2 separate regions of the Homo sapiens genome follow, and region 2 is linked to region 1. Evidence: fine-mapped QTL for protein levels in blood plasma. A gene starts in region 1. The other region holds a variant in brackets. All regions are shown on one strand. Distances are from middle to middle.

What was found. A credible set is the group of variants that fine-mapping cannot tell apart. PIP is the chance, under the fine-mapping model, that this variant and not a neighbour inherited with it causes the effect. Protein levels are from the aptamer-based SomaScan assay of Sun 2018.
Region 2: its variant is the best candidate, but not a certain one, in a credible set for the plasma level of the PCDH9 protein (Sun 2018, PIP 0.69).

The regions. Positions count from the first base shown.
Region 1 is chr13:67,226,117-67,231,499 of GRCh38, reverse strand. It overlaps PCDH9 (protocadherin 9), which reads left to right and starts at 1,164. Exons shown (of 5, transcript NM_203487.3): 1 at 1,164-1,720; 2 at 2,925-5,383. The coding sequence starts at 3,060. RefSeq lists a silencer at 754-893.
Region 2 is chr13:67,146,720-67,152,102 of GRCh38, reverse strand. All of the region lies in intron 2 of PCDH9 (protocadherin 9), which reads left to right. Among named protein-coding and RNA genes, the nearest start is that of PCDH9, 81 kb to the left of the region's middle. The variant T/C (reference allele first, on the strand shown) is at 2,682.

The DNA of each region.
Region 1 (5,383 bases):
TGAAAACGAGAAACTTGTGAGGATTTAGTACAGAGCTGGAGTCGGAGAAATGAAATGCACGGGAAAAGACGAAAATCACAGGAAAGAAAGTTGGAATCAGCAGAAAGTGCCTAGGGGAAAGGAAGTGTTCCACAGCTTGGGAAACAGCTGCCTGGGACTCCTTCCAGCCCCTCGGAAGCAAAGTTCGCAGTGAGGTGGGCTGGAAGCGGGTTTTGCAGCAGCCGCGAGTCCGGGCTCAGGTTTCCAGGCGCGGCTGGAGCAGAAGTGCAGGGACCGCCACGATCCACCGCCGCGGCCGGTCCCGCTCCGCTAGAGGAGACTTCGCACGCGCAGCCGACTGGCCCGGGCTGACCGAGGGGACCCAGACGCTGCCACTTTCTCTTTCCAAGGCAGTTTCCGTGGCTCTGCATGTAGGAAGTGCTCCGATTAATTTTCTTTCCGGTCTCCGCAGAGATTCCAAATTCTGCGGTCCCCACCTTTCGCTGTACTCCCTCTCCGCCCTTCTTTCCAATGTCCCTGCCAGCAAAAGCCTCTATTTGCAGCACCGGGCATGTTGTCCGTTTAACGCGCTCCGGGGATCTGCTGGCTCGTGCTCCCAACCCAGGGGTGGCTATACGTCTCGCGCCTCTGTTCCTGGGTAGACTCCCCCATCTGTGCATTTTGGCCCCTTCACTTAGCAAAGAGATGTGCGAAGTGTGCGCCTGGAGACGAGCCGCCTCGGTGACCCCCATCCGCCCGCAGCGGTGGCCCTGGTTCCCCGGATCCGCGCCCGCGCCCTGCGGGTCTCCCGCGCCGCCCTTGCCCGCCGGACCACCCGGGCTCAGAGGGTCGCTCGCTTTCAGCGCCTGCGAGCGCCGCTTCCGCCCGGGCCTGGGGAGCGCCAGCGCGTCCCTCCCACGCCGGACCCTGCAGAGCATGCTCAGTGCACCTCATGGAACCCGGCTCTCCTGGGGCCAGGATCAGATTTCCGGGTTTTCGCTGCTGCCGAGGGGGCGCGGAGGAGGGGAGGCTGGGAGACAGTCAGCGCCTTGTTCCGCGCTCCCTCCCTCGCGCCGGGCTGCGGCCGCCCGCGCCGCAAGATGCAGGCCAATCAGAGCCCGGGGGCGGGGCCTGGGCAGTCACGCCCTCCCTCTGGGCTTATTGAGAGTTATATCAAGAAATTCAGTTCAGAGAGAGGAGAGGGAGAAGGAGAGAGGGGCAGAGGGGAAGGGAGAGAGGGAGAGCACGCGAGACGGAAAGGAGCGCCTCAGAGTCTCTGAAGCACGCAAGAGATAACCGATTAGGAATTTTTCGGGCAACTGTCACCCGGATAGCTGTCAGAGAATCATCATCACCGCAACTCTGACGTTTCCTACAAGAAGTTAGAGACTTAAGCAGTATTGGCATCGGATGGAAATGGTATGCATGCTGCTGTGGAAAATATCCCTGAGCTGAAGAAGTGCAACTATGTGTTGTGTGTGCTAAATGCCCAGAAGAACCCAGACCCAGTGGGTAAGAGAGACGAAATGTGGAGAGAATGACTAACGACAAATCCGTGAATTTGTTCTCTGGAGTTGCTAATTTGCCAGCCCGAAGCAACACATTTTACAAGGAGGAAACATTTTGCTGCTTCTGATTTCTCCCCAAACTGGTGCTACCAGATGCATGGCTTTCTATGTGTTGGAACAAATCATTCCTAACTGCAGCATACTGGGAAAGGGGAAAGGTTGAGGCAACTAACGTAAGTGTAAAGTTTCGCATGCACAATTGTAAATTCTGTGTTTAGATGTGTCCTCAGTGTAGGCGAAAGATGCTTGTAATTGGGTAGACGGTTGGGGCAGAGCTCACCTACTCGGCTGTATCTGCATCCCTACCTGCATCACTCTGCCGGAACTAATCGCGGGCATCAGCTACTGTGCAGCCTAATGCAGATAAGATTAGAGCCTGAGAACTGACCAGTCCTACTCAAGTAGGTAGCTGCCTGGAGCCTTGCACCCATTTAAACTGCAGTTATCTAAGCAGAAGCCTTTTTACCTGCATGATTGGGTTGCAGTATTTATGTGTGGCAAATGTTACTAATATTCTAACCAGAGATCAGGATTAAGAAATTGCATTTTTTTTCTCTTTTATGTTCAGTAGAAAATATTGTGATGTTACATGGGAATGTTAGCTGCGTTTCACTTATATCTCGGCACTCTCTTCCACCTCTAGGAAAATGAATCCTATATTATTATACATTTTTAAAAGTTTTAATGTGTTTATGAATCCTAATGAGGATAATTTGTCAATATGGAGAAAGGAGAGCAAGCTGTGGGCAAGAAATCTGAAGTCTTGTTGTTGTGCTTTTAGGCAATGAGGATGTGTAGAGGCCGGTGACTATTGCTTCTGATGCCGCTGCAGCGGCATGTCCGGATGCTCGTTTCCCAGTAAGATTGTATTAGAAGGCAGTTGAAGAACTGGGAGGAAAGAAAAAGATAGCCTTTTTAGAAAAGATAGGTGACTCAGTGGGGCAGAGAAGAAAACACATTTGACATGTGACAAAGCAATTAGCAGGAACCGTAGCTAAATACTTAGTGTTTTTCACTTGCACCTGAAAAGACTGAGGGAGGTAGGTTAGAGGCTAGGAGGAGGGTGAGACAGGGGGAGGGGAAGAGGAGAACAAGAATGCATGTTTTGAATTAAACAGTATTCTGAAAAACAACGTGCGTGAATATAGGTAAAAATAGCAGCTGTCCTTAATTCAAAAGTAGAAAATTTTATTTTCTCCCGGCAAATGCAACCAGCAGGAGATATTTAGTGTTTTTCTCCACAGAGTAAACTTGCAAACAGTGGCAGAGCAAACTGCCATGTTTACTAATGTTCAGGGGAAAATGTGTGGTGATATTTTGTGACGGTGTGTTTTTATTTACTGAAGAATAATATTGTCTATACAATTGTGTTGACAGCGGCTGTCTCCAAATAAGTGATGAGATATAATGCATCCTCCAGTCCATGCACGCTTCCTCTTGCAATTTGTGCATCATTCCTCAGTGGAAACCTTTAAACCCTAAAATCCAGGAAAAGAAAATAAATACATTATCATGGACCTGAGGGATTTTTACCTGTTGGCTGCTCTGATTGCCTGTTTAAGGCTGGATTCCGCAATAGCTCAAGAACTTATTTACACTATTAGAGAGGAATTGCCTGAAAATGTGCCCATAGGAAACATACCAAAGGATCTGAACATTTCTCACATCAATGCTGCCACAGGGACCAGCGCCAGCCTTGTCTACAGACTGGTTTCTAAAGCTGGGGATGCCCCTTTGGTGAAAGTTTCCAGCAGCACTGGGGAAATTTTCACAACCTCCAACAGAATAGACAGAGAAAAACTCTGTGCTGGCGCCTCATATGCTGAGGAGAATGAGTGTTTCTTTGAACTTGAGGTGGTGATCCTCCCCAATGATTTCTTCAGGCTGATCAAAATAAAAATAATTGTCAAGGATACCAATGATAATGCCCCCATGTTTCCATCTCCTGTCATCAATATTTCCATTCCAGAAAACACTTTGATCAACAGCCGCTTTCCAATTCCATCAGCAACAGATCCTGACACAGGCTTCAATGGTGTACAGCATTATGAATTGTTAAATGGGCAGAGTGTTTTTGGACTGGATATCGTGGAAACTCCAGAGGGAGAGAAGTGGCCACAACTGATTGTTCAGCAAAACTTGGATAGAGAACAGAAAGATACCTATGTGATGAAAATCAAAGTAGAGGATGGAGGCACTCCACAGAAATCCAGTACGGCCATACTGCAGGTCACAGTAAGTGATGTAAATGACAACAGGCCAGTGTTTAAAGAGGGTCAAGTGGAGGTGCATATTCCAGAGAATGCTCCCGTAGGTACCTCTGTAATTCAGCTCCATGCCACTGATGCAGATATAGGCAGTAATGCTGAAATCCGGTACATTTTTGGTGCCCAGGTCGCCCCTGCAACCAAAAGACTCTTTGCTTTAAATAATACTACTGGGCTGATTACAGTTCAGAGGTCCTTAGATAGAGAGGAGACAGCCATTCACAAAGTGACAGTGCTGGCTAGTGACGGCAGCTCCACTCCTGCTCGAGCAACGGTTACCATCAATGTCACCGATGTAAATGATAACCCTCCTAATATAGACCTCAGGTACATTATAAGTCCCATCAATGGCACCGTGTATTTATCTGAGAAAGATCCTGTCAATACAAAGATTGCCCTAATTACAGTTTCAGATAAGGACACAGATGTGAATGGCAAAGTGATCTGTTTTATTGAAAGAGAGGTCCCATTTCATTTGAAGGCGGTATATGACAACCAATATTTGTTAGAGACCTCTTCTTTGTTGGACTATGAGGGCACCAAAGAATTCAGCTTTAAAATTGTTGCCTCTGATTCTGGGAAGCCCAGTTTAAATCAGACTGCCCTGGTAAGGGTTAAGCTTGAGGATGAAAATGACAACCCACCAATTTTCAACCAGCCTGTAATTGAGCTGTCAGTTTCTGAAAACAACCGACGTGGGTTATACTTAACAACTATTAGTGCCACAGATGAAGACAGTGGGAAAAATGCAGACATTGTTTATCAGCTTGGACCGAATGCCTCCTTCTTTGATCTGGACCGAAAAACAGGAGTTTTGACAGCCTCCAGAGTATTTGACAGAGAAGAACAAGAACGATTCATTTTTACAGTAACTGCCAGGGACAATGGGACCCCTCCCCTCCAAAGCCAAGCGGCTGTGATTGTTACTGTTCTGGATGAGAATGACAATAGCCCCAAGTTTACTCATAATCATTTTCAATTTTTTGTGTCTGAGAATCTGCCAAAGTATAGTACTGTGGGGGTAATCACAGTGACAGATGCAGATGCTGGAGAGAATAAAGCTGTGACTCTTTCCATTCTAAATGACAATGATAATTTTGTGTTGGATCCCTATTCTGGAGTCATAAAGTCAAATGTCTCATTTGATAGAGAGCAGCAGAGTTCCTACACTTTTGATGTCAAAGCCACTGATGGAGGACAACCACCTCGTTCCTCTACTGCAAAAGTAACTATCAACGTCATGGATGTCAATGACAACAGCCCAGTTGTCATTTCTCCACCGTCTAATACTTCCTTTAAGTTGGTGCCCCTCTCAGCCATTCCTGGCTCCGTGGTAGCAGAAGTTTTTGCAGTGGATGTTGACACTGGAATGAACGCTGAACTAAAGTATACTATAGTGAGTGGAAACAATAAAGGCTTATTCCGGATTGATCCAGTAACAGGTAACATTACTCTGGAAGAAAAACCAGCACCTACTGATGTGGGATTGCATCGTTTGGTGGTCAACATAAGTGACCTGGGGTACCCTAAGTCTTTGCACACGCTTGTGCTTGTATTCCTTTATGTTAA
Region 2 (5,383 bases), 79 kb after region 1:
GACACAAAAAGTCTTGTAAGTTCTTCAGCTATAAGAAGATACAATTTGGAGGAATTTGTAAAATACTATTTCAGTTTATCTCATGTAACTTGGGATGAGAGTTTTATGAGATGAGAAAGTATCCTTAAGAGTCTTTTAGTTCATTCATATAGTCTTGTAACAAAAAAAAAATTATCTCTCTTTAGGCAAAATGATGATGCAAGGACCCTGAGTGCATTTGAGCTTTGGTGCCTTAAAAATGAGTGTGGCCTAGAATTGGGTGGAGATGTTGCCTGCAGCTATACAAGGGCTGATACTTCCTGAGTCCTTTATGAGGCCTCAAAAGCATAAAGTCCCTGAGCATAATGATAAGTTTCTCCTCTCAATTATTATGTGCCTCAGTTTTGATAGATTGAAAAGATGAATTTTTTTCTTCCTCTAAGTATAGAGCAAAAGCTTTGCCAGCTTGTAGAAGGGATATATTCCCCATCCTTAGTCACTGTGTGAAACCAGGTGCTTGAATCATACAGGATCTTCTAACTCTAACAGTGTTGGATTTGGGAATGATGCAGTACTCTTAGATCCCCTACCTAAGTCAAAACTATGCCTATTTTTTTTCAGGCAAACAATAAAAGAAGTAGGAGCTCTGAGTTTACCAGTAGAACCCAATTCTGCTTTTTGCATCTCAGACACAGACACCCACAACCAGAAACCCATGAAGAGATGTGCAAAGGCTGTAGGAAATAAGGTCATGTTCTTTCATTGCATTAAACGTTAATATCCCTAAAGAGGAACAAATTGGGGGATACAAACGTTAAGAAACAATTCCATCCCTACTTATCAGTTTGACTTTAGTAGCAGAGAAATCACAATAAATGGCCCTATTTCAAGATAGTACAGAGATAAAACACATGAATGTGATTTTTTTTTAAAAAAGGAGCTATTGGTACTCATCAAATGATGAGTTTTGAATAAAATGGCCAAAGAGACCCTCAAGAAGAGGATGAGCCTTCCACTGGACTTTGAAAAAGATGGAGAATTTTTCTGGATTAAAATAAGTGAGGGCAGAGGGAACAGTATTTTAAGTATAATTCATATATGGTGCATGTTGAATCTAGTCTTATGATTAAGACTAAACTAAGGTTTACTTAGGCAGTGGATGGTGGGAAGCAATTGGAAGGCCTTGGGCAGTGAGACTTACAAAGTTGGTTAAACAAGAAAGCTAATCTTGTTGTATATGTAGGTTGGATTAAAAGGGATTAAAGACTAACTGTGCTTGCCAATAGTAGTGCAGTGGAAAGATACAGTCTTCCTGGAGTTCTATTAGATTAGGGAACACCACTAACACCTGTGTTTACAAAGGGCGAGTACAAGTTACTTTATTTGCCAGTGGTTTTATTGGTAAATTTAAAACAAGTTTATGTTAGTTGCAAATGGTTTTCTAGTTATTTAGAAATTATTGTTCTCACTTCTGGATATAATTATTGGCACATGTTTTGGATGTATTGTGTTTAAGAATCACATGACTTAAAATACTTATTATTAGGGCAAAACCAACGGATTGAATGAGGGAACACCCTGGGGCCATTGAAATGAATATGAAAACTAATGATTATATTTCTGATTAACATTTGTTTAAGATGTCCTAGTTTTCCATCCTTTTTACCTACTAATGCAGTCAAAATGTGGCTTAATAAAATTAATACTCTCTATTAATACTGATTTTTTCTGACTTGTATGGAAACCAACACTTTGGGCTTTTTGTATTGATTAAAACTCAAATTATGGGCCAGGCACAGTGGCTCATGCCTGTAATCCCATCACTTCGGGAAGCTGAGGCAGGTAGATCACTTGAGGTCGGGAGTTCGAGGCCAGCCTGGCCAACATGGTGAAGCCCCATCTCTACTAAAAATATTTTAAAAATTAGCTGAACGTGGTGGCATATGCCTGTTATCCCAGCTACTTGGGAAGTTGAGGCAGGATAATCACTTGAACCTGGGAGGCAGATGTTGCACGGAGCACTGCACGTCAGCCTGAGTGACAGAGTGAGACTCCATATCAAAAAAATAAAAATAAAATAAATAAAACTCAAATTATGTTTTATTATTAAAATATAAACTGCAAATATTCTTGCCTACATATGACCTGAAAAGACTTTTATTTTTGAAATTTTGGCTTCAAAAGTGAGTATCAATACCACTAAGAAGTGCTGTAACCTTGGGTCTTAGTTTTTTATTTGCAAAATGGGGATTAAAAATACCATATGGGGTGTTCATAACGATTAAACATGCTAATTTGCATGAAAGTGTTCGGCTAAAAGCATAGTTTTTAGAACTCAAATGCCATACAAATGTATTTTTATTACTACTGCCATTATTTAGCTTTAAAGTTAATAATCTTAGGGTTTTTTTTTATACAAAGCAAAAATCTTTAACGTAATTTTTCTTCATGGAAGTTGAAATCGTAATTCCTTTGTGATCTTAGGATAACTAGTAATCATAAAAAATCAAATAAAAATTCGTGACCATTAGCAGTATTTACAGTTTTATTTTCCCTTTAATGTTCCTTTCTTTTGTATGAAAGTTGATGTTTTGTTCAGATTTGTTTCCTTCCTTTCCTGTAAATACAATGATAATGATAATCACAATAATAAATATTTATCAGAGCCTAACAATGTGCTGGGCACTGCTTAAAATATCTTA[T/C]TGAATTCTCATCACACCTTTAAAGTAGGTACTATGACTATAAAGAATTCATAAAGAAAATGAGACTTAGAAATATTGAAATTGTCATATCCAACATGACACGCATAGGAAGTAAAGCAGAATTCCAGCTCAGGCCGTCAGCAACAGGAGCCCATGTCTTTGTTATATTATGCTACCTGTTTTCATACTGATAGGAAAGTTTTCAAGACTCACAAATTCTAGCAGGCCAAGTTTCTATCTTATCATTTTTTAAATGTAATTATTCATCTTAATATTTCTTCAAGAGACCTACAATATCATTGGCATGTAGTCGGTCTATAAGGGCTATGGTGCCATGTAGTAGGTTAGAGCAGGAACTTGAGAGCTCAAATTTGAGCATGAACCTAAAGGTAAGGTAAAAACCTTTGTAAGTTTTGCTCTATAGGTGCCTTACTGTAGTTGCAGCCTTGCAGTAAAAGTTTGTTCATTGGATGATTCCATTCCTACCTAGAACTGGCAAAATCATATAATAGTTTTCCATCATAGGAATCAAAAACTTAATATAATACATCTTTTAAAGATCAAATTAATGTCTATTTGTTAAATTCATCCTGGGACAGTTTTCAGTGGCTATATTTTTGCCATTTAACATGTAGACTGAAACCTTTAAGAATATGAAACATTCAAACCTCAATCAGCTTTTTCTCAGGCTTTTAATGGTTAATAAAAATGTCTTTATGACATGTGTAAAGAACATAGATAAGGACTTCAAAGGACATCGAAGAAAAACATGACTGAAATATAAAATGCTAAGTTTTAAATTTAAATGAATATGTTGATTGATGCAGAAAAGTGGTAATTAAAAAAAAGAAGTTGGCTTCTTTTGCCTTCATCTTCTCATTTAAAATTAAAACTTGCACGGGTGTTCTAACCAAATGCTGGTTATTGCATATAACAAGAAACAACATAATTACTTTTTTCTTTTTTTTTTCTTTCCTGTGACTCATTGCACATGTGCATGTTACTGTTACCTAGGAGAGGAACCAGTGTACATCAGCTGTAAAAATTCAAAGACTATAAGTATTCCTATAATTGGTCCCTAACTGTCTGGGGAAAGCTGCTTCACACAAAGAAATGGTCTTGAAGAAATCTTATTCAGTAGTATATTTCCTTCAAATCACAGAGGGGAAGAAAAATACAAATTCCAATTAATGTAATTTTGCAGGATGAAAAAAAAAAAAGACATGGAGGTAGCCTTAACATCTTAGATACGCTTATAAATTCTCAAAGCCACTGAGACTTAGTGAATTCTGAGGACTTAAAGTATGTTAAAAAGATAGACCTGCATTTAAATGCTGATCTCAACTTTTCACTGGGGACCACTAAGAAGCCTTTCAGAAGAAAAGACCGGGATCAGCAAAACATGAAATCGTTATAGCAGCCGACTTTCTGGGTCTGCTTTATATTACACTTTTGAAAAGGACATTTGTTTAAGGATATGATAGTTTTATCCTGCATGTAATGCATACTCATTTACTGGGATAGGGGGTGGGAAGAGAGGAAGGATGGAATGCTTTGACAGTGAGGTCACATACCAAAAACAAAAAGAGAACTGGCCCATACCCAAGCTATTTCTTAGCAATTTATCTGCAAAGGCATTCTCCTGATACTCATTGAGGGAATGTATAAACAGTGGACATTGTAAATGTGTCCATGAAATACAAAGAAACAATTTTGGCTATGGAAAAGGTAGTAATTATAAGACAGTCCCCAAATTCCCTGGCCTTATTCCAAATGTACTCAGTCTCAGTTATTATTTCTTCTGGTTTTTCAAAAAATATAACTGGATAGGGCACCTTTTTCAAGCTTATTAACACGGCTGTGAACATGAGTCAAAGAGGTCACTTTAATGTAAGGCAAGCGTAGACTCTCTCCAGGGACACTGCAGGCTGCCTGAACAGGAGAGCTGAAGACTGGGCCCTGACTGTTTAGATTGTAACCAAACAGCATGTTGTTGCTATTCTGGTAGATACACATTCCCAGCTTTATATCTGCGATGTGTACTTCCTCTCACATTTCCTCCTGCCCCACTTTCACCTCTGCTATTAAAAATACCCTAAGTAGATATGAATAATTGCAAAGATAAAACCATTTTATTTTTCTGAAAATTATCTCTCATTTGAAAAATGAAGGTCTGATAGAAAGTTTAAGCATCCTAGCATCCTATTTTCAGCTGCTGATAAGAAACTGAATAAAAAAGAAAGTTAAGCCTGAAAATGATGATTTCGGAAGTCTTTTCAGATGAACTGTAATACTTGCAGAATAAAAAAATGCTGTAGGCTACATGAGGGGAGCAGAGAAACAGTCCATTAGAGCATCTTTCCTACATTGTTTATCTACTTTGTTTGTATAAAAATGCTTCCACTTGCCTCTGGGCACCTATATAACAAAATTCAGAACCATGAATGAATAACTAAACTTAAAAAAAGGAAGCCGGAATCACAGTTGTTTCCTGACAAACTAGAATCTCACTTCCTATCAGAAAAGAGAGAAAAGGAGGAAGAAAACTTCAATATTTACTTTACGAAAATGTTCAGAAAAAAATAAAACAACTCTTAAGTGGAAGTGTGTTTTGACTGAAGTAGGCTTTTCTGGCAGAGTACTTTTAATAAAAGAGAAAGAAGTTGCCAGTTATCCACAAGCATTGAAAGCACTTCAGAATT